Homo sapiens: one gene and its partners. The protein of the gene in region 1 purifies or fractionates together with the protein of each later gene. This does not show direct contact. Each region holds a gene or a part of one and is shown in the gene's direction. Other genes may lie near its edges.

The links.
Region 2: the proteins of KIFAP3 (region 1) and IQGAP3 purify together in Homo sapiens (affinity purification with mass spectrometry; one large-scale study listed by BioGRID and IntAct). This does not show direct contact.
Region 3: the proteins of KIFAP3 (region 1) and SON purify together in Homo sapiens (affinity purification with mass spectrometry; one large-scale study listed by BioGRID and IntAct). This does not show direct contact.
Region 4: the proteins of KIFAP3 (region 1) and RUSC2 purify together in Homo sapiens (affinity purification with mass spectrometry; one large-scale study listed by BioGRID and IntAct). This does not show direct contact.
Region 5: the proteins of KIFAP3 (region 1) and HMGXB4 purify together in Homo sapiens (affinity purification with mass spectrometry; one large-scale study listed by BioGRID and IntAct). This does not show direct contact.
Region 6: the proteins of KIFAP3 (region 1) and ERICH5 purify together in Homo sapiens (affinity purification with mass spectrometry; 2 studies listed by BioGRID and IntAct, with this or other methods). This does not show direct contact.
Region 7: the proteins of KIFAP3 (region 1) and CRYBG1 purify together in Homo sapiens (affinity purification with mass spectrometry; one large-scale study listed by BioGRID and IntAct). This does not show direct contact.

Annotation. Positions count from the first base shown.
Region 1 is NC_000001.11:170,067,752-170,072,276, reverse strand, and holds part of KIFAP3 (kinesin-associated protein 3), read left to right. Parts: intron 1-3,359; exon of another isoform or gene 3,360-4,525. UniProt on the Homo sapiens protein: Involved in tethering the chromosomes to the spindle pole and in chromosome movement. Binds to the tail domain of the KIF3A/KIF3B heterodimer to form a heterotrimeric KIF3 complex and may regulate the membrane binding of this complex.
Region 2 is NC_000001.11:156,562,566-156,566,065, reverse strand, and holds part of IQGAP3 (ras GTPase-activating-like protein IQGAP3), read left to right. Parts: coding exon 1-39; intron 40-633; exon of another isoform or gene 634-730; intron 731-1,374; coding exon 1,375-1,451; intron 1,452-2,241; coding exon 2,242-2,309; intron 2,310-2,399; coding exon 2,400-2,513; intron 2,514-2,753; coding exon 2,754-2,932; intron 2,933-3,400; coding exon 3,401-3,479; intron 3,480-3,500.
Region 3 is NC_000021.9:33,566,433-33,570,957, forward strand, and holds part of SON (protein SON), read left to right. Parts: intron 1-724; coding exon 725-835; intron 836-2,538; coding exon 2,539-2,655; intron 2,656-4,525. UniProt on the Homo sapiens protein: RNA-binding protein that acts as a mRNA splicing cofactor by promoting efficient splicing of transcripts that possess weak splice sites.
Region 4 is NC_000009.12:35,541,643-35,546,167, forward strand, and holds part of RUSC2 (AP-4 complex accessory subunit RUSC2), read left to right. Parts: intron 1-4,525. UniProt on the Homo sapiens protein: Associates with the adapter-like complex 4 (AP-4) and may therefore play a role in vesicular trafficking of proteins at the trans-Golgi network.
Region 5 is NC_000022.11:35,284,665-35,289,189, forward strand, and holds part of HMGXB4 (HMG domain-containing protein 4), read left to right. Parts: intron 1-1,332; coding exon 1,333-1,397; intron 1,398-2,682; coding exon 2,683-2,788; intron 2,789-3,573; coding exon 3,574-3,743; intron 3,744-4,525. UniProt on the Homo sapiens protein: Negatively regulates Wnt/beta-catenin signaling during development.
Region 6 is NC_000008.11:98,062,799-98,067,858, forward strand, and holds the start of ERICH5 (glutamate-rich protein 5), read left to right. Parts: upstream 1-1,769; 5' UTR 1,770-1,871; coding exon 1,872-1,929; intron 1,930-5,060.
Region 7 is NC_000006.12:106,363,365-106,367,889, forward strand, and holds part of CRYBG1 (beta/gamma crystallin domain-containing protein 1), read left to right. Parts: intron 1-4,525. UniProt on the Homo sapiens protein: May function as suppressor of malignant melanoma. It may exert its effects through interactions with the cytoskeleton.

The DNA of each region.
Region 1 (4,525 bases):
AAGGTGCCTGAAACATAGATTATTAAGTAAAGTCAGAATAAGACTAGAAAGAAATATGAGCCAAATCATATGGGACTTAAGCGCTTTAGTAAAGAGTTGAGACTTTATTTTGAGTGCATTGGTGAACTATTGAAGGATATTAAAAGTGAACAACATTTGTTCATTCATTTAATAGTTGAGATTCTACTGTGTAAAAGTCATTAAGCCAAGTGATAAAACATATTTGGTAAATGAAACATAAATATATTCCCTGCCTTCATGGCATTTACACTCTAGCAAGTAATACAGACTTTAAAATATACTGATATTTATTGTATTTATGAGTGCTATATGAAAAAAGTGTGTGGCTTTTGTGTCAAGCATTTCTCACATGGTATATCAAGGTCCATCTGTGTGGTAGCATGTATCAGTACTTCATTCCTTTATATAGCTGCATAATATTTGCTGTGGTTTGGATATAGTTCGTTTCCACCAAAGCTCATGTTAAAACTTGGTCCCCCATTGTGGCAGTGTTGGGAGCTGGAGCCTGGGAGGTGTTTCAGTTTTGGGGGTGGATCCCTCATGAATGGCTTGGTGCTGTTCTTGCTGGAGTGAGTGAATTCTTGCTCTAGTGAGACTGGATTAGCTCTCTTGGGAATGGATTAGTTCCCTCTAGAGTTGGTTGTTATAAAGCCAGGAAGACCCTTGGGTATTCTCTTTTCTCACTTCCCCTTTGATCTTGTCCACTGTGTTATAATGAAGCACAAAAGCCCTCACTGGAAGCCAGAGTCATGCCCTTGAACTTCCCAGCCTGCGGAACTGTAAGCTAAATAAACCCCTTTTCCTTATAAATTACCTAGTCTCAGGTATTGTGTTATAGCAACATAAAATTGACTAATTCAGTATTCCATTTTATGGATATACCACATTTTGTTTGTTTATTGCTCATCTGGTGGTGGACATTTGGGTTGTTTCTACCTATTGGCTATTGGGAATAAAGCTGCTGTGAACATTACTGTACAAGTTTTTGTTTGAACACTTGTTTTGTATCTTTTGGTGTATACCTAGGCCTGGAATTGCCAGACCATATGGTAATTCTATGTTTAATTCATTGAGGAACCACTAAAGTGTTTTCCCTAGTGACTGCACCATTTTACATTCCCACCAGCAATGTATAAGAATTCAGTTTTCCGTATCCTCACTAACACCTGTTATTTTCTGTTCTGTAATTATTACTATACTAGTGGATATCAAATGGTATCTTATTTTGGTATTGATTTGCCTTTCCCTAATTACTAATGACATTGAGCTTTTCATGTGCTTCTTGGCCATTTGTCTTTATTCTTTGGGAAAAGGAGTTCTTTGTAATAGAACCTTGTCAGATACATGATTTACAGATACTTTGTCCCATTCTGTGGGTTTTCTTTGCACTATCTTGGTATGTAAAACTTTCATATGCAAACATTTTTAATTTTGGTGAAGTCTAATTTATTCTTTTGTTGCTCATGCTTTTGGCATCGTTATTTAAGAAACCACTGCTAAATCCAAGGTCATGAAGGTTTGTCCCTCTGTTTTCTTCTAAGAGTTTTACAGTTTTAGCTTTTACATTTAATATCCTTGATCCATCTCGAGTTAGTTATTGTCTATGGTATATGGCAAGGGTCCATCTTCATTCTTTTATATGTGACTATCTAGTTGTTCTGACATCATTTGTCAGAACAAATGTCAGAAAAGAACAATTGACTGTTCTTTTCCTCCATGAATGGTTTGGGCAATTTTTTTGAAAATTAAATGACCAAAAATGTTGGGGTTTATTCCTGCACTCTCAATTATATTTCATTGATCTATCTGTCCGTGTGCTAGTACCTCACTGTTTTGATTACTGAAGCTTTGTAGTGAGTTTTGAAATCCAGAAGTGTGAGTCCTCCAACTTTGTTGTTCTTTTTCAAGGTTGTTTCAGCTATTTAGGGTTCCTTATATTTCCATTTGAATTTTAGGGTTGGCTTTTTCATTTCTGCAAAAAAAGCTATTGAAACTTTGGGAATATAATGAATCTATAGATCACTTTGGGGAATATTGCCATCTTAACAATATTAAGTCCTTCAGTCCATGAACATGTGATTTCTTTTCATTTAGTTCATATTAATTTCTTTCAGCAACTTTTTGTTTTCAGTATACAGTTGTTCCTTGGTTACGTTTACTCCTGAGTATTTTATTCTTTTTGATGCTATTGGAAATGAAGTTTTCTAAATTTCCTTTTCATATTTTTCAGCTCCAATATGTAGAAAAACAGTGGATTTTTTTGGTGTGTTCTGATCTATTCTCCAACTTTGCTGAATTTATTAGCTCTAGCCAGTTTTTTGTGCCATTTTTAGAATTTTCTATATATAAGATTATGTCTTCTGCAGATAGAAATAATTTTACTTCTTCTTTTTCAATCTGGATGCCTTTTTATTTTTTTTTCCCATGCCTCATTGCTCTGGCTAGAATTTCCAGTACTATGTTGAATAGAAGTCAGGAAAGTGGATAAACATTCTTGTCTTGTTCCTGATCTTAGGGGGAAAGCTTTCATTCTTTCACCATTGAGTATGATATTGGCTGTAGATTTTTCATATATGCCCTTTATTATGTTAAGGGACTTTTCTTCTATTCCTAATTTATCAAGTACTTTTATCATGAAAAGATGTTGGGTTTTGTCAGATGCTTTTTTCTGCATCGATTGAGATAATCATGTACTTTTTTTCTTCATTCCATTAATGTGGTGTATTGTATTGAAATGCCCATGTGGCCATGTTGCGTGGTCCTTTTAATATACTCCTGTATTCTGTTTGCTAGTATTTTGAGGATTTTCACATCGACATTCATAAAGGGTATTGGTCTAAAGGTTTTCCTGTAGTGTCTTTGTCTTGCTTTGGTATCAGGGTAATGGTGGCCTCATGGAATGAATTAGGAAGTGTTTCCTCTACTGTTATATCTTTTGGAAGAGTTTGAGGGGTATTTATGTTAATTTGTCTTTAAATGCTTGGTAGAATTCACCAGTGAAGCCATCTGGTACTGGACTTGTTGAAAGGTTTATGATTACTGATTCAATCACCTTACTTCTAATTCTGTTCAGATTTTCTGTGTCTTTTGAGTCAGTTTTGGTAGTTTGTGTGTTTCTAGGAATTATTCTTTTTCATGTAGGTTATCCAATTTGTTGGTGTTCATATTATTCTCTTGTAATTTTTTAATCATCAAAAGAGCAGCAGTAATGTCCCACTTTCATTTCTGATTTTAGTAATTTGAGTCTCTTCTTTTCTTTTTTAGTCAGTCTAACTAAAAGTTTTCCAAAAATGTTTGTTGATCTTTTCAAAGAACTAACCTTTGGTTTCATTTTCTCTATTCTTTTTCTAGTCTCTGTTGCTGCTTTTTATTATTTCCTTCTGCTAGCTTGGGGTTTTGTTTGCTCTTCTTTTTCTAGCCCCTTAAGGTGTAAAATTAGGTTATTAATTCAAAATCTTTTATTTATTTTTTTAAATAGAGCGTCAGTATAGAGTGTCTTATTGTGGATCTGTTTGAGTTTATCTTTGAATTTCATTGAGCTTCTTGGATGTGTAAGTTTGTCTTTGGTCTAATTTGGGAAGTTTTTGACTGTTTTTTCTCCCAGTATTCTCTATGTTTCTTTCTTCCTCTCCTTTCATACCCTCATTATGCATATGTTGGTATACTAGATGGTGTTCCATAAGTCTCTTAGGTTCTGTTTATTTTTCTTCATTCTGTTTTCTTTCTGTGCCTCAAAATGGACAGTTTCATTTGACATATCTTCAAGTTTGCTGATTCTTTTCTCTCTCTGCTCAGATCTGCTGTTAAAAACCCTGTAGTGATTTTTTTATTTCAGTTATTGTACTTTTCAGATCTAGTGTTTTTGTTTGGATCCTTATGATAATATATTTTTAAACTATTTATGTGTTGAGACATTGTGTTTCTCCTTTTTCTTAGTTATTTGCACTGGTTTCTTTTTGCTCTTTGGACATATTTAAGACAGTTGATTTAAAGTCTTTGATAAGTCCAGTGTTTGTGCTGTAGCATGGACAGTTTCTGTTAATTTTTTTTATTGTGAGAATGAGAATGAGTTTCTTGTTTCTTTGCATGTTTCATATTTTGTTTTGTTGAAAACTGGGTATTTTGAATATTATGGTATCCAAAGGAAAAAAAGAAAAGAAAAAAATACTCTTCAGATCTTTGTAGGTTGACTCAGTGTTTGGATATGGCTTCAACACTTAGCCAGGCAATTTACAATTTTACCTTAGCCTTCATTTGCTGCTTGCACAGAGCCTGAAGACCAGCCAGAGGTAAAAGCTTATGATCTTCCCAGGTTTTTTCTGGGTATGTATTCTGCCCTGAGCATGCTCATGGATTTCTAGATTTCTCTTTATATGCAATAGCTTTTCAAAGCATCTATTCCCCCAAAATGTCTGACTCCCTGGACTTTCCTCTTGGGCTTTCAGCTTGTGTTTTGTTTGACCCAGCTATTACTATTTATCCCAGGGGCCAGCAGCTTGTATGC
Region 2 (3,500 bases), about 14 Mb from region 1:
TTTTGGCTATCTGCAATAGCCCACATCGGTCTGCCTTCGGTAATACTGGGCCTGAAGATTGGTATTCATCTTTACTCCTTACCAGCCACCTCCCACAATCCCATGCTTTATCTCCCTGGACCCTTTAGCCCTATTTCCATGTGTCTTCTAAACTAACTTAATCTAAGAGAACAGTTCCTTGCAGCTGTGTGTCTTTGAACCAGGTTATTTTTTTCTCTGCCTCCTCTTCCCTGTGGATGAAAGGAGGTGAAGTTTCCCTGGCCTGAGTGGCACGGTTCCCATTATGCAGGGGGTGGGAGGCTGCTATGTCATGCTCGTATTGGCCAGCCTTGTCTCCACCAAATTTCACAGTGTGAAGCAAGGGTATACACATCCCTAGGTGGCAGACTTTGAGTTAGAAGCCTAGGTCCAAAACCCCAACTGGACACATGATTTCACTCTTTGAACCTCAATTTGTTACTCATCTGTAAAATGGGGATAGTGAGCCCTGCCCTGTCTACCTTACAGTGTTGTCAGGAAGATCACATGGTCTGTGTGAACTCCCTTTGTGAACTGTGAAGAGCTATACAAATGAAGGCATGATAGGATTCTACAATGTATGGTTTCTTTCTGCTTTGTTTTTCTTCCCTGTAGAAAGGCACTATAAGACAGGAAACAGCAGTAAAGACACTTCGATGGGAGGCAGAAGCAATAGAGGTCATGTGTCTTCAGTGGGACTGGAACACTCTAGGTCTCTAAATTTGGTCTTTTATTGTGAATCTAAATATAACCAAGATATATTGAGGTTAGGCCTCATTACAGTTGTCAGGTGGCATTGAGAAGCCATACCTGGTGCCACTCGGTTCTTAGAAGGGCTCTCATTGATCAGAAGCCGCTGGCTTGGAGACAGGGATAACAGCCTGACACTTTTGTGGTCCTTGGCAATATATGCTTCATTGGGCCCTGCATGGGAGTAGGCCAGCTCTCCAGCATACCACATCTCTGGCAAGGGTCTAAGGTGAGGCATGCAGGCTCACTATAGACATCTGGAAGACAACTGGGGGCCTGGTTTTTTGTTGTTGTTGCTGTTATTGTTTTTGGAGGATATGGCTTATATCCTGTAGCCTTGATGGCCTTATCTGGTGTTTGGTTAATCCAGGGCACCCTAGGACTATGTGTCTGTGGCTGAGCCTTGGCTTAGTATGCATCCTCAGTGAATTTCTTTTATACTAGGCTGACTAGAAATGGTTGGGGGAGACTGACCTAGACACCCCAGGTAACAAGGGAACACACACCTCAGGTTGGAGAGGAAGACCCATTCCTCGGCACCCCCTCTCCGCATTTGGTGGTGCTTAAAGGTTCCCAATGGCAGTAACTGGCTGGTTTCTCCTCTAGACCTTCTTCCCAGAGACCACGGACATCTATGACAAAAAGAACATGCCCCGGGTAGTCTACTGCATCCATGCTCTCAGGTGAGAGACCTCAAATTTTATCATCCAGGTTCCTCTAGGTGGATGCGACCAACAATCAACAACAACAAACTCAGCAAGAAAGAAGGATGAAGGGTAGACCACAGGGAGCACTGCTCAGGAGAGTGAGGTTTCAGATTTACAGAGTTGTGTTTAGATTTTTGTGCATGTCTGTGGGCACATTTATGTATGGCCTGTGTGGGTGAAGGGGAAGGGCAGGCAGGGTACCAGAGATAGGAAAGTAGCAGGGTAGGGCCTTCAGTTTGTAACTGGGTATAAAGGAATCAGAACAGGACCTATTGAGAGCAACACAGGCAAGACACTTAGTATGGATGGTGTAGGCTCTTTGGTCCTACTTACAGCCAGCCATCAGCAACCAGTTGGCTAAATCACAGCAAGTGACCGACCGGTTCCTTGTGTTTACCATGCCATCTCTTTCTGACCACTTCCCATGTCCCTTTGTGCCCCTGTGCCTTAGCTCAGCAGGTATCTGCTTGCTGCGCCCTTCCTGTCCTCTCTCTCCATTGAGTGACCTGCTACTGCAATGTGGCCTTCTCTGTGAAGCCTTCCTAATCCCCTCAGACCCCCAACACCATCTTATTTACCTTCTGCAGCACTTTCCTTGGGCTGATTTATGGTCATATTTCTTTATGTGGGTTGGGGATGACTTGAGGGCAGGTGCTGAGTGGTCTTCATCTCTAGGTCCCCATAGTATCCCCTTCAAACCCATCGTGGGCAGAGTGTCAAAATGAATAGGCCCCAGTGCCTTCCAATGCCTTCCGTTTTTTCCTAGTCTCTTCCTCTTCCGGCTGGGATTGGCCCCTCAGATACATGATCTATACGGGAAAGTGAAATTCACAGGTAAGCCCAGCTCCTTCCCTGACCACCACAGCCTGGGCAGGGTCTTGGGGGTTCTGGGCCTGATGAAGGGCACCTGTGGCATCATTGCAGCTGAGGAACTCAGCAACATGGCGTCCGAACTGGCCAAATATGGCCTCCAGCTGCCTGCCTTCAGCAAGATCGGGGGCATCTTGGCCAATGAGCTCTCGGTGGATGAGGCTGCAGGTAAGGACTAGGCTCTGCCCTGCCAGGAGTAGGCTCAATGCGTATGGGAGGGCTCCAAGCCTCACAGCCATTGGATGGGTTCTGGCCAGCTCTCATCCACAGATAGGGCCATCAGGCTACCTGGTTTGTCTGGCCCTTGAGGGTGGGAAAAAGGATGACATTAGAGTGGGCTGCTACTGGTTGCGCTCCAATCTGGGATTCACTCTGGCCTCCTGACCTTGTTTCCATGCCCTCTCCCAGTCCATGCAGCTGTTCTTGCCATCAATGAAGCAGTGGAGCGAGGGGTGGTGGAGGACACCCTGGCTGCCTTGCAGAATCCCAGTGCTCTTCTGGAGAATCTCCGAGAGCCTCTGGCAGCCGTCTACCAAGAGATGCTGGCCCAGGCCAAGATGGAGAAGGCAGCCAATGCCAGGAACCATGTAAGGAGTAGTCTTGGGTTGCAGGGACCGAAAAGTTGAGTGGCTGGAAAGTCTCAAGTGAAACCGGGACTCCTATCTGTCATGTCTCTAGTATCCAAAATTGCTTCTTAGAGAAACCATAATTTATCAGTGATTTTAGAGAAATAGGAAAGGAACTTGGAAGAATGATGAGAATTCCGAAGAGAAGACTGGAGAAGAGGTTCTTGGGGGATGATCTTCAGGGAAGCCTGAGAGGGGTGCTGGAATGTAGAACAGAATGAGATTGGACTGGAGGTTCCAAAGGTTGGTTTGGCTTAATTATGTCAGTGCCAAGTGTTTTAGACCCCACAATTCCTGAATTCTGAGCAGACTGAACTTTGGCCTTGGGAAGGTCCCCAGAAGAAGAAATAAGTGTAGCCAGGCAGGGAAGAGCAGGACAAGGAGATTAAATTGGGTTTCCCAGGTTCCCTTTCAATGGAGTTTTTGCAGGATGACAGAGAAAGCCAGGACATCTATGACCACTACCTAACTCAGGCTGAAATCCAGGGCAATATCAACCATGTCAACGGTAAGAGACCTCGAGCAGGAG
Region 3 (4,525 bases), on another chromosome or scaffold:
CCGTAAGGTTTTAAAAGGTAGAATATGAGCTTTGAAAAGAAACAAAAGTGTTTCAGTTGATGTTATGGACTTCCACAGAAATATTGTAATTATAAATAGTGTAATATACTTAATATAAGTAATAAGTGTGTATAAACTGAAAACATGGTTCATTTATTTATATCCTGAATATATTGTTTAAAGAAATTGGGTTCTTAAGACCAAAGTGTCCACAACTGGAAGATGTTAAAGATACGCTGATGAGTAAAGGAGTGATCATAGTGGTTTTCTGCTTGCTTGTTCAGTAATTTTGCTTACTGCTCTTGAAGGTTATGCTAATGAGTAAAATGAAAACTGCTAAGGAATGTAATAACCTTACCACAGTTCAAAAAATTTGCAGTTTACTATAAATGGCTTTCAATCATGAAGAGTAGCGAGTTTTAAGTTCTTAATGGAACTTTCTATGATTATAGTTTGATATATATATATAATAGAAAATTGACTAAATTCAGTCAGATTTTGGGTTCAGTTCTGCGACCTGTGTGATACTTTGTAATTTATCTTAATCCTCTTCTGTTTTCCAAGATTACTTTCTCTTTCTGAGTCTTCTCCCTGTTTTCCAAGATTATTAGTATTATAAGACTATTATTTTGTTTTTGATATGTAGCAACTAAAGATATGAGTACTTTTCAGAATTTAGGGGACTATGGTAATTTGAGATAATTATCTCTGTTTTCTTTCTTAGCCTGTGGACATCTCTACAGCAATGAGTGAACGGGCACTTGCTCAGAAAAGACTCAGTGAGAATGCATTTGATCTTGAAGCCATGAGCATGTTAAATAGAGCTCAGGAAAGGGTATGTAGCAGTTTTTTAAAAAAAATTATTATTTACCATCAGCCAACTCACACCAATGTACCAGTTTTAATGTCTAAATAAGAATTTTGCTAACTAGATGGTTGAGTTGTAACATCCTTTACCTTATTTTCAATGTCTTATTTTAAATGAAAGTGATTCGAGGCCTGATCATTTATTCAATAAATGTTTATTGTTTACTATGTGGCAGGAACTGTTTCTTGAGAGAACAAAATAGAAAAATTTCCCTGTCCTCACAGAGTTTACAATCTGGTGTATAAAAACAACTAAGTGCCTACAACCCTATGAAATGTGTAGGTATTAATAGTTGCCATATTTCAGCCGAGAAAACTGAAGTAAAGGGTGGTTAAGGCCAGGCATGGTCGCTGATGCCTGTAATCCCAGCACTTTGGGAGGCCGAGGTGGGGGCAAGGAGTCAGGAGTTCAAGACCAGCCTGGCCAAGGTGATGAAACCCCATCTCTACTAAAAATACAAAAATTAGCTGGGTTTGGTGTTGCATGCCTGTAATGCCAGCTACTCAGGAGGCTGAGGCAGGAGAAATGCTTGAACCTGGGAGGCAGAGGTTGCAGTGAGCCAGGATCGCGCCACTGTACTCCAGCCTGGGCAACAGAGTGAGACTGTCTAAAAAAAACAAAAGAGTGATTAAGTGATATCCATAGTCACACAACTAATTAGTGGGGGAACTGGGATTCAAACCCAAGCAATCTGAATCTGGAGTCTGTGCTTTTAACAATGGACAGCCTCTCCATTTCATTTCTACTGTTTTATGGTAAATCAGTAAGTACATGTTCAGACAGGAAATACATTGCTGACAGTGCAAGGTGTTTAGTAAATCTAATTTGTGTGAATGACAGCTGATCTTTATCACAACAAATGTTGGTGACTGAAAAAAAGTATACAAGCTTCTTTAAAAAGTTGTTTTACGGCCGGGTGCAGTGGCTCACGCCTGTTATCCCAGCACTTTGAAAGGCCGAGGCGGGCGGATCAGTTGAGGTCAGGAGTTCAAGACCAGCCTGACTAACATGGAGAAACCCTGTCTCGACTAAAAATACAAAATTAGCCGGGCGCGGTGGCGCATGTTTGTAATCAATCCCAGCTACTCTGGAGGCTGAGGCAGGAGAATCGCTTGAACTCGGGAGGAGGAGGTTGCAGTGAGCAGACATCGCACCATTGCACTCCAGCCTGGGCAACAAGAGAGAAACTCCATCTCAAAAAAAAATAGTCGTTTATGTATTCAAGTGGACAGTTTCCTACATTTAAACTCTTTAAACCTGTGTCATGAATTTAGTCTGTATAAATGTCTCAAAGGAAGTAATTAAGAATCCAGGCTGTCATGACATGTATTACAATACATTTGTATGAGATAGGAAGGGAGGGTGGGGACCCATTGTCATATGAGCTCTTTTTTGCATTTTTAGTGTATCTGTGTGATAGTTTGAAGAATATTAACAGCTGTATTTTTTAGTAGCTGTGCTTTTAGATACATTTCAAAATCTTATTAATGGGATTCACTAAATGTTGTCAAACTGCTTCTTTAGAAAGTTTAGGCAAACATTTAATGTTAAATATGTTTTAAAAGTTAAATATTTAAGTCTGCTTTTCAGCCATTTTTAGTGAATTATTACCAGTGATGTTTTAATCAGGTAATTTTACTTAGTTAACTGAGACTACTTCTTTTCTTCAGATTGATGCCTGGGCTCAGCTGAACTCTATTCCTGGCCAGTTCACAGGAAGTACAGGAGTACAGGTTTTGACACAAGAACAGTTGGCCAATACTGGTGCCCAAGCCTGGATTAAAAAGGTACACAGTATATGCACATATGAAAGTGTCGAACAAAAAGTTTAAATTTTTTGGAAACTGTTTATTAAAACTGCATGAAAAGACCAGTGACTCTAACCAAAGTTCCAAGTAAATTTGCTATGTGTATATGCTCCAGGGCGGACACTGAAGACGGACTGGATTCATGAGAAAATGGCAAATGTATAAATGTGGCTCAAGAGCCACTAACTTATAAGGTTATTTTAAAAATTGTTACTGCTGCTTTTGAAGGGGTGATTTAACTTTATTTTGAACGCTAATAGTGTATCAGGTGCTGTTCAGAATATTCCACAGTTCCTGCTGGACTACTAACCTAATCATTTCAAAGCAGTGGTTCTCAAATTTTTCTTCATCATGGGATACTTTATTACAGGTTTATTTTTAGTGGATCACTGCCCCCAAGAGCCCTCTACCACCTTAATTTTCCATTCCTCTATTCCTTTGCCCTCGCACCCCACCCGCTTCATTAGTGCCTGTGCCTTCTTGTAAGATCTCTTGGCCCCCGTTCCTCACTCCTCTTGTGACCTGTAGCCCCAGGACCTTTTGGTTGTCAGCTGCTGGTTACAGCAAGTGGTTGGGAGGCCCTAGTATTAGCTCTGCATGTGGTGATCTTGCCATGGGACTGGAAGCCTGAGGGAGGATGGCTGGAGTGGGGTGGGCTGTGGTGAAGGGGATGGGATGGAGATTAATCTGTGGACCACCATTTAGGCCCTAGTGGCCTCTGGTGATCCACAGGCTCAATTTGAGAACCACTAATTTCATGACAAAACAGATATGTAAGACCTAAAATCAAGGGAGAGAATGGACGCCTCGTGCTACGAAGATGTAGGTGCATCTGGTTTCAGATTCTGCAGTGAGACCTGTGAACTCCACCTACGGCTGCCTCATCATTGGGGGAGTCTTAGGTGGCTAAGAAGGGCATTCTGAAGAAACGCGTTGTGGTGAAGGGACAAAGCTTGGTTGGATGGGTGATGGGAAATTTGTTACAGGAGTACTGGCAGCATAGCAGTGCTGAAACTGGGAGGCCGCGTGGTCTAATGGATTGGGAAGGTTTCTTTATCCTGTTGTACTCCTGACTCCTTGTGTAATCATGGGCAAGTAACTCTTTGGAATTTCAAAGTCTCTGAGGTGTCTAGTGGTAATCAGTAACGTGATGGTTACCTATAGAGAGTTGCTATGAGTGCCAGTGAATGAGCTGAATTTCTGAAAAATGAGACATTGGTTGCTTTGTGTATTTTAATCTTGTAACATTTATTTCAATTTTGATAGCTTTATCTTTGTTGATCTTACTAACAAATTAATATGAAACATCATGTATACTCATTATGCCTGCCTTTTTTTGGGAAGTAGTTGCACTGATGTGTATAGTGAGTACACAGTTAGATTCATTAAGAAATTACAATTTCTGCAGTTTGCTGAGGGTTGGTGTTAGAATAAAGGGTGAAAATGTATATAGCAAAATATTTTAAAGATTGGATTAATCTTGGACTTCTATATTATAGTTACTATGAAAGTGATTTATATAATATTTGAAAAAATGTCTTTCATCTTTGGAAGAACTATAAATGTACATCTATTTCTTTAGTTTTAATTCTTTAATACTATTTAGTCTTGAAGCTAAGTACTCAGCCAGTATTTCAGGAAGTTAGAAATAAAGCTTATGGGTGTTAAAATAGGCACATAATACAGAGTCATGTACACTGCTAGGTAGAAACTTCTGAATGTGCTTCCATTACAAAATTTTGGTCTTTATCTAATGATGTGCTGATCCATAATGTTTGTATACTTATAAATGTGTTAATAACTTAAATAACTTTTAAAAAGTGAATCTTTTACTGACTCAATTGGTTTT
Region 4 (4,525 bases), on another chromosome or scaffold:
CACCATGTTGGCCAGGATGTTCTCAATCTCTTGACCTCATGATCCACCTGCCTCAGCCTCCCAAAGTGCTGGGATTACAGGTGTGAGCCCCCATGCTAGGTCTACTCTCATTATATTCTTAACTGACCAAGAAAAAAGATCAAAAGTTAGGATTCCTGAGTCTCATCTTAATTCTGTTATTTATTCACTGAGTGGTCTTGGGCAAGTCATTTCATTTTTCTGGGTGTATAATTATTTTAAAATTTTTATATATATAAAATTTTTTTAAATTATTTTTATATCATATAACATTTTTTAAAATTTTATAAATATAAAAATAATTCCTTATTTTTAAAAATGAAGATGGCTCTGCCTCCTTTGGAAGTTGATGTAAGGATCAGTAAGATATGCATACATAAAAAGTGCCTTGTAAGTAAATGTGAATGGGGTGGGCAAAGCATGAGTACAAAATCTCATGAGATGCCTGGAGAACTTCCCCTTAGATGGCTGAATTGGAATCGTCTATGGAGGAGCCATTGCTCGGCCTTTCTCTTGGTTGTGTGGAGATCAGAAAGGAATAAGATCTTCTCTGAGATACAAAAGCATAAAATAAAATGAAATCAATCAGTGAAAGAGCTTGACAGTTAAAGTAGGATTCAATACAACCTAAATGTAAAAGCTACAACTATACAGCTTTTAGAAGAAAACATAGGTACATTTCTTTATGGTCTTAGGACAGGTAAAGATTTCTTAGGATACAGAAAGATTTAACCATAGAGAAACAAACTCTATGATCAGTTGATCAATTGATCAATTTAAATTTAATAAATTAAAAACTATTTATCAAAAAACACAGTTAAGAAAACAGGGACAAGCCACAGGCTGAGAGAAAATATTCATGAGGCATATATCTGACAGAGGACTTGTATCCAGAATAAATGTTAAAACTCCTATAATTCAATCATAAAAAGACTAACAACTCAGGTTATTTTAATGGGAAAAGTAGTCAACAAATAACCAGGCACCTACTGTGTTCCAAGCACAGAGTTCACTGTATTGCAGTCTCCAACCTCAGAACTGTGCTCCAGTCTGGGAGATAGATATGTCAACATCACATTACAATACAATTGTCAGTGCCCTCCAGCCAAGGGCTCCGTCATCTCCCACGCTCATGTGTTCTTCATCTCTGATTTAGAGAGTCAGCTTTCTGCATTCTGTATCTGTACATCAGTTTTTCCATATTAATGCATGTATGTCCTGGTAATGGTTTTGTGGCAGAATCATACATTCTTTTATGTGATACTTGTGAATGCCTCTTGAAAATGCTTTAAAAAGGAAGAAAAGGTACTCATTGAAGGTCAGTGATGGCTGCAACCCATAGGTACCCCTAAAATTACTGCTATCTATGTAAGAAAGTTCTCTATGCTCCTTTTAGTCCAGACTCGGGATTATGGCCAGGACTCCAGGGGAAACGTAGTTATGTATGAAAGGAGAAACCCCCTCAAAGAAAAAAAATTGTTTAGGCCCGGCATGGTGGCTCACATCTGTAATCCTAGCACTTTGGAAGGCCAAGGCAGGTGGATAACTTGAGCCCAAGAGTTCAAGACCAGCCTTGGCAACATGGAGAAACCATGTCTCTACAAAAAATACAGAAATTAGCCAGGCGTGGTGGCACACACCTGTGGTCCTAGCTACTCAGGAGGCTGAGGTGGATCACTTGAGTCCAAGAGGCTGAGGCTGCAGTGAGCCATGATCGCACCACTGCACTCCAGCCTCGGTGATAGAGTGAGAACCTGTCTCAAAAAAAAGAAAAAAATTGCTTAAATTATGCATAAAATGGGTATTTATTACATACAAATTAGAAAATACAGCTGAAGCAAAAAGAATAAAATTAAAAATAATCCAAATCATTCAACAGTGATAGGCACTGGTAACAGTTTGTTGCATGTTACAGATTTTCTTCTATGCATACAGACATGTTTATTTACAAAAATGGTGACAAACACCTGGCTAATTTTTGTATTTTTAGTAGAGACAGGGCTTCACCATGTTGGCCAGGCTGGTCTTGAACTCTTGACCTCAAATGATCCGCCCGCCTCAGCCTCCCAAAGTGCTGGGATTACAGGCATGAGCCACCACGCCTGGCCTGATTTCAGGACATTCTATTTCTATGGATTTGCCTATTCTGGACATTTCATATAAATGGAATCATACAACATCACAAAAGCCCTTTGTGACTGGCTTCGATTGTGCCCAATTTTTTGGCTACTGTGAATAATGCTGTTATGAACATTTGTGTACAAGCTTTAGTGTGAACATATGTTTTCATTTTTCTTGGGTATATACCCAGGAGTGCAGTTGCTGGGTCATGTGATGACACTATGTTTAACATTTTGATAAACTGTCAGACTTTTCCAAAGTAGCTGCACCATTTTACAATACTCCCGGCAATGTTTCAGGGTTCCAGTTTCTTCATATCATCATCAACATTTGCTAGTTGTTATTGTCTGTATTTCTTATTTTATCCCTCCCAGCTGGAGTGAAGTAGTATCTCATTGTGATTTTTATTACTCTAATGACTAATGATGTTGAACATCTTTTCATGTGCTGGTTAGACACTTGTATGTCTTCTTCAGAGAAATGCCTATTCATACTGTTTGCCCTGTCTTAAACTGGATCATATGTCTTTTTTTTTTTTTTTTTTTGAGACAGAGTCTCACTCTGTCACCAGGCTGGAGTGCTGTGGCATGATCTCAGCTCACTGCAACCTCTGACTCTCTAGTTCAAGCGATTCTCCTGCCTCAGCCTCCCAAGTAGCTGGGATTACAGGCATGCACTACCACGCCCAGCTAATTTTTATATTTTTAGTAGAGATGGGATTTCACCATGTCGGCCAGGATGGTCTCTGTCTCCTGACCTCATGATTCTCCCACCTCGGCCTCCCAAAGTGTTAGGATTACGGGCGTGAGCCACTGTGCCCAGCCTCGTATGTCTTTTTATTGTTGAGTTGTAAGAGTTCTTTATATATTCTGATTAGAAGTCTTTTATCAGGTATATGATTTGCAAATATTTTCTCCCATTTTATGGATTGTCTTTTCACTTTCTTGGTGGTATCCTTTGAAGCACAAAAGTTTTTGGTTCTTATGGAGTCCAATTTATGTTTTTTCTTTTGTCACTTGTGCCTTTGGTGTCATATCTAAGAAACCATCACCTAATCCAAGATAACAAAGATTTACTCCTATGTTTTCTTCTGTAACCCTTAATCTTGTAGCTCAGACTCTCTTAATATCTGCCCTTCTACATCTCTACCCATTAGCCCATTAAACACACAAAGGCTTGGAAGTTCAACAGAGGAGCCTGCCTTCCTCTCAGAAAGGGGAGGAGGAAGCAAGATTGTAAATAATTGCTGCTTAAATTTAACACAATTATATTTTAATACCTTGTCCCTTATACGTATACTTATTAGCCATATTTTTTATGCATTGTTTGTTCATGTCCTTGAGCATATGTGACTTGCCTCAGACTTTACCACATTCCACATGACGAGCTATGACCCTATGGTCTACATGAGTTAAATTTTAAGAAATTGATTGTGTCAAGGATTCAGTTAAATGATGAATAAGAGAAAGGCAATGAGGGATTTAGACTCAGGGTGAGTGAAAAGGAAATGATAGGAATAAAAAGAGAAAGGAAATGAATGAATTTTGGAACATTACATGTGAGGAGTCGAAGGGAATGAAGACTGTTGCGACCTGAACGTGGAAACACAGGAGACTAGAACTTGAGCAGGCCACACTGCCACGGTGCAGCCAAGAGACCAGAGAAGCTCAGGATGGGTTCTGTGTCCTTGGCACCAGGAGACCTTGAACAAGAGAGAACTTTGCTTTAGCCTATAAGAGGTAAAACTGGGAAGAGAAGACTTTCTAGTGGATCCCAGTAGTGAAGGTTCTAAGCTAAAACTGGGCAGCATTTGGGCACTTCAGGATGTCTGTATCCTGAGCTAGACGCATGTTAAGAATGTATTATGCCTTTCACGTTTATCTTGTGTGATGTGTTAGAATGATACAAAAGACATAAAACTAGGTCCCCCCACCCCCATTGAGGAGGAAGAGGTTGACATCAGTCATACTTGCAGTCACCCTAATGCCCAACTCAGTGTCTGCATTCAAGAAGTTCTAGTATAGTAGTGAGGATAGTAAGGATACTTAGCCCACGGTCATCAGAAAGGGACAAATATTCTGGGGCTTGTAGGACGAGAAAGGGGATCAGAGATAACAGTCACTTGGTCAGATGATACCGTATATTTTAAAATGCTTCTTGCAAAATTATAGCTTATTGCTATGAGTTCATATTATTCATGATTTTCCCTCTTGGCTGTAAACTTGTGTGCTATAGCTGTGTCTAAGCCTTAAACATCCTAGATGGTTTTTTCTTAATTGTGTCATTATTCATAGTTTTTTTGTGCTAAGGACTGGTCATTGTTTACTGCCAAGGAGAGGGTCCTTGAAAGAGAAAGGGAAAGTACTGCCCAAACCTTCATATGTGG
Region 5 (4,525 bases), on another chromosome or scaffold:
TACTAGAAGTACAGTTTTTACTGAGTGCATATTGCTTTTGCATCCTTATAAAGTTGAAAAATCAAAAGTCAAACCATCATAAGTCAGGGACTGTATTTGTCTCTGTATTAGAAGTTAATGAGGTAAGAAAAACACTATACCAGAGATCCTGGACACATGTCACTTAACCGCTACAAATTTCATTTGCCTAATGTGTAAAATCGCTGCCCTACCAACTCCAAAAGACTGCAGTGTTAGGCACACATGAATATGCTTTATAAAGCATAAAACTCTTATACAATGGAAGGGTAAGATTACACATCTAGAGGATTGCTTCTGAGCTGCTCTAGGGAAATCCTTCTTTGGTTCTAATCATTCAGAAATTTGGTAAAAACCTAACATCTTTTTTCAAATTCTACACATATTTTTTAACCTAAGTTGATAGGCCTTGTATTGTGGGATCAAATTAAAGACACCAGAGGCAGGATGCAGTGGCTCATGCCTATAATCTCAGCACTTTGGGAGGCTGAAGCAGGAGAATTGCTGGAGCCCAGGAGTTTGAGAGCAGCTTGGGCAACATAACGAGACCTCATCTCTACAAATAATAATTTTAAAAAATAGCTGGGCGTGGTGGCTCACGCCTGTAATCCCAACACTTTGGGAGGCCGAGGTGGGTGGATCACCTGAGGTCAGGAGTTCGAGACCAGCCTGGCCAACATGGTGAAACCCCGTCTCTACTAAAAATACAAAAATTAGCCAAGCATTGTGGTGCACGCCTGTGATCCCAGCTACTCCGGAGGCTGAGGCAGGAGAATCACTTGAACCTAGGAGGCAGAGGTTGCAGTGAGTTGAGATCACGCCACTTCACTCCAGCCTGGGCGACAGAGCGAGACTCCGTCTCAAAAAAAAGAAAAAAGAAAAAAATTTTAAAAAATTAGCTAGGCATGGTAGCCCACGCCTGTGGTCCCGCTACTTGGGAGGCAGAGGTGAGAGGGTGGTTTGAGCCCAGGTGGTTGAGGCTGCTGTGAGCCATGATCACACCACTGCAATCCAGCCTGAGCAACAGAGCCAGACTCAGTCTCAAAAAAAGACACCAGAAAGATGCTTAAGGAATAAATCCCTAGGGAGTAGATGGGTTACGAGTTGAGACTGTCTCCTGACCATCAAAACATCCCCTTCCCTATAGAAAAAAATCAAAGAAGAGTGATGGGATTGGGGTTGGTTTTCTGAAAGCATCTTGCAACATTTAAATATGAGCTTCAAAACCCTTTTCCAGTTTTTGCTTTCACCAATCTTCTATTTTGTTAATAGCTAACCCTTTACTGTATTGAGTGTTTTACTCTTTTATGCCAGATTTTGGGGAACTTAGTAAAAAACTGGCTGAGGTGTGGAAGCAATTACCAGAAAAAGACAAACTGGTAAGTACATTTTCTTACAAACATATTTTTCAGTGCTTCTCGCCTTCCAAAATATGTAATTCTTCCATAGACTAGCCAGCCAGACAGCACTGAAAATAGTGAAGAAAATTACAAATCAACAGAAAATGGTTTAGCAGAGGACATTAACACTGTTAGTGCCAGTTCACTGTACATGAGGATTTAGCTATAGCAAGGCTGTCTTTTCTAACCTGGTCTGTTTTTTCCAGCAGTGTTACATTTGAGCCAAAAGATGACCTAAGTTGAGGAGTAATTAAAGTGTTAAAAGAAAGTCTAAAATCAGAGCCCTTTACTGCAAACACCTAGTAATCAGTCATGGTCTGAGAACTGAGGAAAGTTATCCACTTAGCAGTCACTGCAAACAATAAAAATATGAGAATGTGATTACTAGGTAACCAGGTTCAAGGTCATCATCCTCATCAACCATTACCAAATAATGTACTCTACTATCAAGAAGGTAGTAAGACACTGATAAACAGTCATATCTGGGCTGGGCACGGTGGCTCACGCCTGTAGTTCCAGCACTTTGGGAGGCTGAGGCGGTGGATCACCTGAGGTCAGGAGTTCGAGACAAGCCTGGCTAACATGGTGAAACCCCATTTCTACTAAAAATACAAAAAATTAGCCAGGCATGGTGGCGCATGCCCGTAATCCCAGCTACTCGCGAGGCTGAGGCAGGAGAATCACTTGAACCCCGGAGGCGGAGGTTGCAGTGAGCCAAGATCACACCATTGCACTCCAGCTTTGGGCAACAAGAACAAAACTCCATCTCAAAAAAAAAAAAAAAAAAAAAGTCATATCTGAATCATTGAGACTTATGATATGAAGGTCATATAGGAGCAAGATGTCATCTAGATGAACAGCCATTCTTCACCCAGATTATCCTTAGTTTTTGTTTTCCTTGTTATTGTTATTCTGCTATTGTGTTGGTATTGCCAACTAGCAGGTTAGTAGAACCACATAGACATTATATTGAGCCAGAGGTTTAATCTGTGATTTTACATTTCAACTTAGAGTGATCTAAAAATCAGTGCCGAGATTTGACCATTAGCATTGAGGAATGTTTATAGTCCTTTACTAAGATATTAATGTAGTCAGCTGTCTGAAGTCAGTTCGGTGACCCCCAGCTTAAAAGTTAGCATTAACCCTCTGTCTGCCCGCCTCTTACTATTGCCTTTCTTTTCTCCATTTTGTTCTTTCATGACTGCTTTTCCTTTTACATTTTGTCCTTCTTAATTTAATTTAATGTTCACTGATGTGATTGCAGATTTGGAAGCAAAAAGCTCAGTATCTGCAGCACAAACAGAACAAAGCAGAAGCCACAACTGTGAAAAGGAAAGCATCCAGCTCAGAAGGTTCCATGAAAGTCAAAGGTAGTGACCACATCCCGCCCCTGCTTTTCTCTAAAGCATGTGAATTTTGCTTCCTTGCTAAGAAACTGGGAAAAAAGCTTGCAGTATTAGAAGTGGACCTTGATTCCCAGGTATTATTACCTGGGAATGTTACAAGCTACCAAAAAGAGATGTTCAAATTTAGAAAATGCAAATCAGAAGTCAGCAAACTTTTTCTTTAAAGGTCCAGAGAGTAGACCAGGCGCAGTGGCTCATGCCTGTAATCCTAGCACTTTGGGAGGCCAAGGTGGGCGGATCACCTGAGGTCAGGAGTTCGACACCAGCCTAACCAACATGGAGAAACCCCGTCTCTACTGAAAATACAAAATTAGCCGGGCGTGGTGGCGCATACCTGTAATCCCAGCTACCAGAGAGGCTGAGGCAGGAGAATTGCTTGAACCCGGGAGGTGGAGGTTGCGGTGAGCCGAGATCGTGCCATGGCACTCCAGCCTGGGCAACAAGAGCAAAACTCCATCTCAAAAAAAAAAAGGTCCAGAGAGTAAATATTATAGGCCTTGTGTGCCGTATGCATTCTCGCATTCTCTGTCACATATTCTTTGTTTTTCTATAGCCCTTTAAGAATGTAAAACTATTCCTAACTCACAGGCCATAAAAAACAAGAGACCATAGACTGAATTTAGCCCACAGGCCACAGTTTTGCTAATGCCTGGTATAATTCATAAAAAGGGAAAATCAGGAAGAACAACTTTGTGTTGTTCAAGGCTGTAGGCAAGTTTTACCTGTCTGCCTCATTGCTCTGTTCTCAGCCTCTTCTGTAGGAGTACTGTCACCCCAGAAGAAGTCCCCACCCACCACCATGCTGTTACCAGCCTCACCAGCCAAAGCCCCTGAGACAGAGCCCATTGATGTTGCTGCTCATCTTCAGCTGTTGGGAGAGTCCCTAAGCCTCATTGGACACCGTCTGCAGGAAACTGAGGTGAATACAACTATCAGCAGCATGACTACAGTTTCCCATATAGTTTCCCATATAATTTTGATTCATTCACTCATTTTACATACATGTATTGAGCATCTACTTTATGCTAAATTATGCCAGGTTCTCAGGATGGCGTAACATAGAAGATATAATGATAATAACAGAAATATCTATAGAGATATTCAGTCTACCTGTTAGCTCTCAAAGTTTCACTAATGATATCCTATTGAAACAATGGCACAAAAAGAAATTGGAGTACCCTGTAACTTATTTTTATTTTTTTAAAATGCAGTGGAGGCTGGGCGCAGTGGCTCACGCCTGTAATGCTAATTTGGGAGGCCCACCTGGGAGAATCGCTTAAGGCCAAGAGTTCGAGACTAGCCTGGTCAACACAGTGAGACTCCATCTCAAAAAATACATATATTCAAAAAATTTAAAAGAAATAAAAATGGGGCCGGGCGTGGTGGCTTATGCCTGTAATCCCAGCACTTTGGGAGGCTGAGGCAGGCGGATCACGAGGTCAGGAGTTCAAGACCAGCCTGGCCAATATGGTGAAACCCTGTCTCTACTAAAAATACAAAAATTAGCCAGGTGTGGTGGCATGCACCTGTGGTCCCAGCTACTCGGGAGGCTGAGGCAAGAGAATCACTTGAACCTGGGAGGCAGAGGTTGCAGTGAGTCAAGATTGCGCTACTGTACTCCAGCCTGGGCGATAGAGCAAGACTCCATCACAAAAAAGAAAGAAAGAAAGAAAGAAAAACGCAGTGGTGGCTGGGCACGGT
Region 6 (5,060 bases), on another chromosome or scaffold:
TGTAATCCCAGCACTTTGGGGAGGCAAAGGGAAGAGGATCCCCTGAGGTAAGGAGTTCAAGACCAGCCTGGGCAACATGGCAAGACTCCTGTCTCTATAAAAAAATTTTTTTTGGATGGAATCTTGCTCTGTCACCCAGGCTGGAGGGCAGGCTTGGCTCACTGAAAACTGCACCTCCCGGGTTCAAGAGATTCTCCTGCCTCAGCCTCTCAAAGTGCTGGAATTACAGGCATGAGCCACCGCGCCCAGCCTCTTTCTCTCTAAAAAAAGGCCTGGCCAGGCGCGATGGCTCATGCCTGTAATCCCAGCACTTTGGGAGGCTGACGCAGGCGGATCACCTGAGGTCGGGAGTTCGAGACCAGCCTTACCAACATGAAGAAACCCCATCTCTACTAAAAATACAAGATTAGCAGGGTGTGGTGGCGCATGCATGTAATCCCAGCTACTCAGGAGGCTTAGGCAGGAGAATTGCTTGAACCCAGGAGGCGAAAGTTGTGGTGAGCTGAGATTGTGCCATTGCACTCCAGCCTGGGCAACAAGAATGAAACCGTGTCTCAAATTAAAAAAAAAAAAAGCCTGTTCTCACCGGGTGCGGTGGCTGACATGTGTAATCCCAGCACTTTGGGAGTCCCACGCGGGCGGATCACCTGCGATCAGGAGTTCAAGACCAGCCTGGCCAACATGGTGAAACGCCGTCTCTACTAAAAAATACAAAAAATAGCCAGACGTGGTGGCGCATGCCTGTAATTCCAGCTACTCAGGAGGCTGAAGCAGGGAGAGTTTCTTGAACCAGGGAGGTGGAGGTTGCAGTGAGCTGAGATCTCGCCACTACACTCCAGTCTTGGTGACACAGTGAGACTCCATCTCCGGAAAAAAAAAAAAAAAAAAAAAGGCCGAGCGCAGTGGCTCATGCCTGTAATCCCAGCACTTTGAGAGGCCGAAGCGGGTGGATCACCTGAGGTCAGGAGTTCGAAACCAGCCTGACCAATATGGTGAAACCCCGTCTCTACTAAAATTACAAAAATTAGCTGGGCACGGTGGCAGGCGCCTGTAATCCCAGCTGCTCTGGAGGCTGAGGCTGGAGAATCGCTTGAACCCGGGAGGCAGAGGTTGCAGTGAGCCGAGATTGCGCCACTACACTCCAGCCTGGGCAACAGAGAGAGACTCGGTTTCAAAAAAAAAAAAAAATCTATTCTCTTAATAAATGTCAAAGTCATAACGACAAAGCAAGACTGGAGGAACTACTTCAGATTAAAGCAAACTAAAGAGAGACACAACTAAATGCAACGTGCAGTCCTGGATTGGACAATTGGCAAAAAGGGAACATGGAGGGTGGATTAAATCGTACTGTATCAAAGTTAAACTTCCTTGTGGTAATTGTAGTTATGTAAGAAAATAAGACTGTCATCGCACATCTAGTCTACCAATCAATAGCCCCTAGTCCCAAGGCCGCCTCGCCTCCCTGGCTATTTAGTGATGAGTCAGATGATACCTCCCAGCGCTTCGCCCTCGCCCCCTGACATCCTCCCTATCCCTGCTTTAGGGGCTTTTCCTCTCTTACTGTGCCATACCCTCCACCGTCTCCCCTCCTGTCTCCTGGGCTCTACTCCTCCCTGCCCTCCTCTGCGTCCTGGCCCTCCCGCTCTCTTCCGCTTTGCGCTCCCAGGCTCCTTCCACCTCCTGCCAGCTCCCTTCCTCCTCCAGGTGCGCACCCCCTACCATTAGCCCCGCTGCGCGCTTGCGCTCTACGCCCAAGGGAGCCGGGCTGCAGAGCTGGAGAAACTTCCGCGGCTACGGGTGCAGTTGCCTTCGGTTCCCGGTTCCGGGCCGACACCCGCGCAGGGCTGAGACAGGTGTCTGCGCTCCCCGCAATGGGCTGCTCCAGCAGCGCCCTCAACAAGGCCGGCGACAGCAGCAGGTTCCCCAGCGGTGAGCAGGGTACCGGCGCCGCCCGCGCCCGGGCTGGGGACTCGGGTGGGCTAACTCCCCAGGAGGTCCAAAGGGTGTGTCCCGTGGCCACCCCGCCTGGCAGGAGCCGGGCCTTGTCCCGGAGGATGCGAGCAGAACCCGGGACAAAGCGCGATTTCCTTCCAAATCTGGAGCGGCGCTGCTGTGACCGCGGGTGCGGCGGCCCTGGTGCGCTCCGCGGCGCTCGCTGCGAGACGCGCGGGGCCCGAGGCCGGGCGCTGGATTCACCCTGTCCGCTGATGGGATCTCGGGGAGTTGGTGTTGAGGCCCTAAGGCGGTTAGCCTCGGCATTGCCTTAAACACAGGAGAAATGTCCTATCAAGGCCTTCTACCAAGGCTGGGGGCGGTGGCTGACGACTGCAATCTCAGCACTTTGGGAGGCTGAGGCGGGACGATCTCTTGAGACCAGAAGTTCGAGAAAAACCTGGGTAACAAAGCGAGATCTTCCGCTCCCCCGTCTCTACTAAAACACCAACAAAAAAGACTTTTCCCCATTTACCCTCCCATTAGCGTTTCAGCATCAAAGATGGCAAAAGATGCGGAGAATCCAGAGGAGCATTCACTCCATCAAATGGGTCCCTGCACTCTGAATAGGTCAGACACACTTTCCCCTATCTTCGGCTTAAGTATCAGTTGAGAAGTATGTGTGATCAAAAGTGGTCATCACTGACTCTTGCTGAAGAAACTCAACAAGGACATTTTGAGCATCTGCTATATAATACCCCAGTGCTTGGCTAGATGCTGGAGATACAAGTGACCCTGTTTGTAGAGATTGAAGATAGAAGAGACAGAAAAGAAACACGTGAAACAATTGGCTAAGATCGTTTCTGACAGTGATAAGTACTGTGAAAAGTATAAACGCAGTTACATGAATTAGAGAATGACAGGGTTTTACAGCCGACTCACTTTTCTTAGATTTTGAATGGCTAAAATTTTGGACAATGCTATGGAGGTTAAGCAAACTCCGTCAAGCTAGTTTACAGTCTTCTGCAAGGCGAACTTTAGCGGGGATTTTGTACTGGAGTGAATTCCTTTTCACAGATTTTCTCTTAGCACCTTGTGTTATTGCAGTAACAGAAATGTCTTCCTCTGATGTTGTTGGTAGAGCGCACCAGACGGTGAGGAATGCTTTTCAAAGCTCAGCCGCTGTGTCCTAGTCAGAAATATGTTGTGTTGCTGTTATTTTTGTGGTGTATGAGAATTTATTTCTAGTTTCCATAGATAACGGAAAGCAATGACAAGTCAGGAAGTAAACAAAAAATTAAAAGCATTATAAAAGTAAACCCCTTCTCACTGACAACAATGTGAAAAGATGGAAAAATTCATTTCTAATGCACAGTGCTCACTAACTTTTCTCCTAAAGAACCCAGAGCTTCCATACCTGCAACAAGAGGACAGAGCAAGGAGTTTCTCCGATGTTTCGATGTTTCGTGTTTTATGTTATGAAATTAAGTAGAGTTTTGCATTCTGTTCTATGATAGATTTTTGTGGGTTTCAATATGAAAAGCCGAGGGAAAACAGATGCTTCAGGAAGATACATTTTATTATTCTGACTTCTCTACCCCATGCTGTGCTTCAGTTATCCTAGGAGTAGCATCCTGGTTTAACAAGCAGAGTACTGAGTCACCATTACATAGTTTTAAACTGATTAAAACATGTATTTCAGGGAATGTAACTTTGGGGCAAAAGTATTCAGTAGGTGGAATGCAGTTTTTAATCCTCTCAGAAAATAATGAATAACTTTATCTTTAAAAATATTTTATCATCAATATTAATAACTATTCCACGTGAGTTACACTCTTCCATTTTTTATTCTTGCTTTCATTGCTGTTCTGAGTTTTCATAGGTGTTGTTATGGAAGAGATGTTAAAATGCCTGACAGCCAGTTCTAGCCCTTAGAAAATTAACCTAATATGCGGCGTAAATTGCTCAACACACACGTTGAATCAATCAACAGGTCTATTTGCTTCTAACCCTCGATCAAACAATACTCTCTTGTAATTAGATACTATTCTGTGTTCATCAACATTTCAGCTTCATGATCTTAGGCCCGATAAATAATTCATTCCTGTTTCTGCACCTTGCAACTTCTTTAAATCCTATATACAACCTCAAGCTTGTGTGTACATACTTTTAGACAAAAACAGTTCAAGTTTATTACATGTCTGGTACATGCATTTATTCACTGTACTCTCAGTGCCTAACAACGCTTGGCATATAATAGGTCCTCAGTAATTATTTGTTGAATGAATTACTTCATTTAATCCTTATAACAATGTTATGACTAAATATTATGGTTGTCCTGTTTTTACAGATAAGAGTAAATAATTTATCCAAGGTCACAGAGCTTCTAAGAATCAGAGCTGGGCTTTGAACTCATATGCTTTGTTGGGCACAGTGGCTCATGCTTATAATCCCAATGGCTCTGGAGGCTGATATGAGAGGATTGCTTGAGGCCAGGAGTTCAAGGCCAGCCTGGGAAACATAGTAAGACCCTGTATCTAAAAATTTTTGTAAAAAAATTAAAACATGTATTTCAGGGAATGTAACTCTTGGTGGTACAGGCCAGTAGTCCCAGCTACTCAGGAGGCTGAGGTGAGAGGATTGCTTGAGCCCAGGAGTTCAAGGCTGCAGTGAAGTATGATTGAGCCATTGCACTTCAGTCTGGGCAACAGAGTGAGACTCAATTAAAAAAAAAAAAAAAGAAACTATATGTTTAAACCAGCTTCTGCTAACTAGATTTAAATCTGTTTTTGCCTCAGATCACTCTGGATCCCCATTAGGTGTGTGGTCACCCACTATCTAAAAACAATGAAATCAATACAATACAATCAACAAATTATACTATGTATCTTTTTTTTTTTTTGAGACGGCATTTCGCTCTTGTTGCCCAGGCTGGAGTGCAATGGCATGATCTCGGCTCACTGCAACCTCGGCCTCCTGGGTTCAAGTGATTCTACTGCCTCAGCTTCCCGAGTAGCTGGGATTACAGGCATGTGCCACCACACTCGGCTAATTTTGTATTTTTAGTAGAGACAGGGTTTCTCCATGTTGGTCGAACTCCCGCCCTCAGGTGATCCACCCGCCTCAGC
Region 7 (4,525 bases), on another chromosome or scaffold:
TATTAATAAATGTTCTGAAAAACTAAACGTACTAGTCTGTCTTTGGGATGTTTTTCTAGTTAGATCATCTTTATAAATATTTCATTTACTTCTAAGAGAGTGTACTTCTTTCTGGTTTAAAGAGAGTGGCAAAAGCACCCTTAGATTTCAAGCCAGTTTGCCCAGTGTGGCTCTCTTAAGCCTCCTGACCATATCCCTTCATTTCTGTCCAGGACTTGGAAGTGATGGAATTTGGCTGGAATGTGCAGCACTCACTGTGGTTTTTGTCTCTAAATAAGGAGGGGACAGTCAGGTAGCCACCCATATTTGCTTATTTGATTAATATTATGGGTGTTTAGGTCAGAAAAAAATGAATTTATCTACTAGCTTTGTGACCTTGGGCAAGTTATTTCACCTCTTAAAATCTCAATTTCCTCATCTGTAATATGGAGACAATAGGATGCTGACTCTGTAGGGTTGTCATGAATATTAAATGAAAGTTTATGTTATTAAGTGCAAAAACCTTAACACACTTCTGAGCACAAAGTAGAAACTCAGTAAATGCAAAAGCATCCTGGTCATCATCATCATCATCATCATCATCAAAGCAAAGGTCTAATGGAAGAAATGGAAAAGATAGGTTTGGATAGGGGAAAACCAACTCTAGGAAGATCTTTTCCTAGAAAAGTTTACCAGTCCAGCCGGGTGCGGTCACTCACGCCTCTAATCCCAGTACTTTGGGAGGCCAAAGCAGGTGGATCACCTGAGGTCAGGAGTTTGAGACCAGCTTGGCCAACATAGTGAAACCTCATCTTTACTAAAAGTACAAAAAAATTAGCTGGGCATGGTGGCTCACACCTGTAATCCCAGCTACTCAGGAGGCTGAGACAGGAGAATCCCTTGAACCCAGGAGATGAAGGTTGTGGTGAGCCAAGATCATGCCATCGCACTCTAGCCTGGGCAACAAGAGTGAAACTCCATCTCAAAAAATAAAAAAAAAAAGAAAGAAAAGCTTGCCAGTCCAAAGATGATTTAAAGTTTATTAAAGTCAGATTTTCGTATTCTGCAAATATTTGTGGCTTTTGGTATAGACATTCTAATCAATTATTTCTTTATATGAAATAATTTGAACTTGGCTACTTCTCTTTCCAAAATTTACTCTTAAAGTTTTTTTTCAGCTTGGTTTTGGTAAACATGGTCATATGATGTTATTTTTCACAAAGATAGAGTTGCTGCCCTCCTGAGTCAGCCCCATCCCCTGTCTAGTCCATAATTCTCTTGCCATTAGAGGGTCTAGTGGTGTGGTGGAATGAGCATGGCGAGCTGTGGCCAGGCCACTTAGCAGCCACTAGTGGCACTGTCATTTACCACATTTTAAATTATACTCTGTCTTGTGAATAATGTGCTCAGAATGTGGATTCTCTACTTGGATTTAAATTCTTGTTCTTCTGTTAATACTTACCATGACACTGAATCCTATCATCCTAGGAAAGTTATTAACATTTTTGTGCCACAATTTTCTCATTCACAAAATGGGAATCATAAGAGTTGTTATAAAAATAAACGAGTTAATGCATTTCAAGTGCTCAGAACAGTGGTTGGCACATAGTATGTGCTCAACCAATGGGAGTTGTTTCTCTTTTTCTTACTAGTTTCTTGCTTATGCCTCCTTTGGAGTAGGAATTTTGTGTGTTTTTCTGCTATATAATGAAAGTGGTACTTTCTTTTTATCTATTCAAGCCACTTTGTGTTATTTTGGTTTTTTTAAATATTAAAAATAGTAAAAATATTAAAACATAAAAAGGCTGCATGTGGTGGCCCACACCTGTAATCCCAGCACTTTAGGAGGTGGAGGCGGGTGGATCACCTGAGGTCAGGAGTTCAAGACCAGCCTGGCCAACATGGTGAAACCATGTATGTAAAAATACAAAAAATTAGCCAGGGGTGGTGGCGGACGCCTGTAATCATAGCTACTTGGGAGGCTGATGCAGGAAAATCACTTGAACCTGGGAGGTGGAGGTTGCAGTGATCTGAGATCGTGCCATTGCACCCCAGACTGGGTGACAGAGTGAGACTCTGTCTCAAAAAAAGCAAAACGAAACAAAACCAAAAAAAAAAAAACATAAATAGAGACAGGGTCTCACTATGTTGCCCAGGCTGGTCTCAAACTCCTAGGCTCAAGCAGTCCTCCCGCCTTGGCCTCCCAAGTGCTAGGATTACGGGTGTGAGCCACCACATGTGGCCATACTTTTTGTTATTTTGATTAGAAGTGGGTCCTTAGCTAAAGGTCAAAAGCAGTGAATTATTTCCATTGAGTTCTTTGTTTAAGAACCTGTATTTTTTTTTAAAAAAAGCAGTGAATTAAAAATTATCACCATTGAACTGAATTGAACTCCACATCTAGAAACAAGCATTAATGCTCCCTGCAGGAGAGCCAAATTCAAGCAGTAGATGGGTCTCATAATCCTGTGAAAATCAGCTCGCCTTGTTTCAGTTGGAGGAAAAGTGTAGCCAGTGTCAAGGGCAGAGCATCCTCATTGGGCAGGCAGAGATCTACCTCTGAGTGAAGGCCAGCAGGCTCAAGTTTCAGAACTATAGACAATCCCTTAGTTTTTCTGTACTCAGTGGACCTTTCCCTTCTATAAAGAGAAAACAACTAACTCCCTGTTTATATCACTAGAATGTTGTAAGGATAAACTATTGTTATCTGGAGCGTTTTTCTTTTTTCTTCAGAAAAAGAACAATCATTTAAAATGTTATTTGAAAGCATTCTGGAACTGTAGAGTGTTAGTCTTCGTAACTTAAAATTGATTCTAGTTTCCAGTCTTTTGTGGCTGGTTTGGTGCTTAGAACTCTAAACAGGTTTAATTATTTTCTAGCATAAAGAACATAGCCAGGTAAGTCTATTTTTGTTTTATGTAATGTTAGATTTAAACTGGTTAGTACTGAGTTTTCCCTCTTATTTTCCTTATACTAAAGGAAAGAGTTTTAATTTTTAGGTTTATTTTATTTCACCAGTGATAAACCAGTAATTTAAAAGTAAGTCTGCCACTAGCTGTGAGCTTCTTGGGAAGTTAGTTTACCCCGATAACTTCTGTTGTATGATCTGTGACCTATCTCTTAACATTGTTTTTGAGAGTTATAAATATATATTTTTTAAAAATGACTAGCCTAGTACCTGGCAGATAACAGAAACTCAGTAAATAGTACCTCTGAAAGCATGCCACAGTCAAAGGATAGTAGACTTTGGTGTTGGGCAGACTTAGTTTCAAATCTGCCTCTGCCATTGGGATAGATTTTTAACCTCTTTAAGTCTCAGTTTCTTCACCTGTAAAATGGAGGCAATTACACTTCTCTTATGGAGCTGTAGGAGGATTGGATGTTATCTATGTAAAGCACCCAGCACAGGGCTTGGCTCAAAGCAAGTGCTGGATAGAGGAAAGGTGGTGGTCAGTAGCAGGGGCAATACTGGCAGTGATAGTTGTAATTATTGTTGTCTTTATAGTAATGGTAGTAGTATTAATACATACATTGTTACTTTGTGAGTGGAGTAAAAACTTCAGAGGCCCAGAAGTCGTAACCAGGTCTGTTAAGCTTTGAAGTACCTTTGAGTATTTGGATGTTCATGTTGGTCTCTAAAAGGGAGACCCTTCATGCGCTCTCAGTGCCTTAAAAGTCTTAATATATCTCACTGAGGAAGCCAAGGCTAAACTTTCTACTTGACATTACAGGAGTTTTTCCCAAAGGGATTTTGGAGTCTGAGTTTAGCATACGATAATCATTTGCCACTTATCTCTGTCATTGAATTACTTTATCCCCCCTCTATTTCCACACTTTCCATCACAATCTACTCTCCATAATCAAGTGGCAGTGACATAAACCCTTTTGGGGACCTTTAGTAAGACCTTCGAAACTTGAGTTCACTTCTTTTTTCTTCTTTAGCTCTTTTTTAAAAAAATATTGGGCCAGGTGTGGTGGCTCACACCTGTAATCCCAGCACTTTGGGAGGCCAAAGTGGGCGGATCACAAGGTCAGGAGATCCAGACCATCCTGGTCAACATGGTGAAACCCCGTCTCTACTAAAAATACAAAGATTAGCTGGGCGTGGTGGCATACGCCTGTAATCCCGTCTACTTGGGAGGTTGAGGCAGGAGAATCACTTGAACCAGGGAGTCAGAGGTTGCAGTGAGCCAAGATTGTGCCACCGTACTCCAGCCTGGCAACAGAGCCAGACTCTGTCTAAAAAAAAAAAAAAAAAAAAATCAAATACATATATACTCCCTTTTTCATTAATAGTTTTGCCAGAATGTATGGCTTTTGATTATAAATCTTATTTTTAGGTCAGCATGGTGGCTCATGCCTGTAATCCCAGCACTTTGGGATGCTGAGACAGGAGGATTGCTTGAGCCTAGGAGTTCAAGACAGCCTAGGCAACAAACTCAGACCCTGCTTATCCAAAAAAAAAAAAAAAAAATTAGCCAGGTGTGGTGGCACACACCTGTGGTCTCAGCTACTGGGGAGGCTGAAGTGGGAGGATCATTTGAGC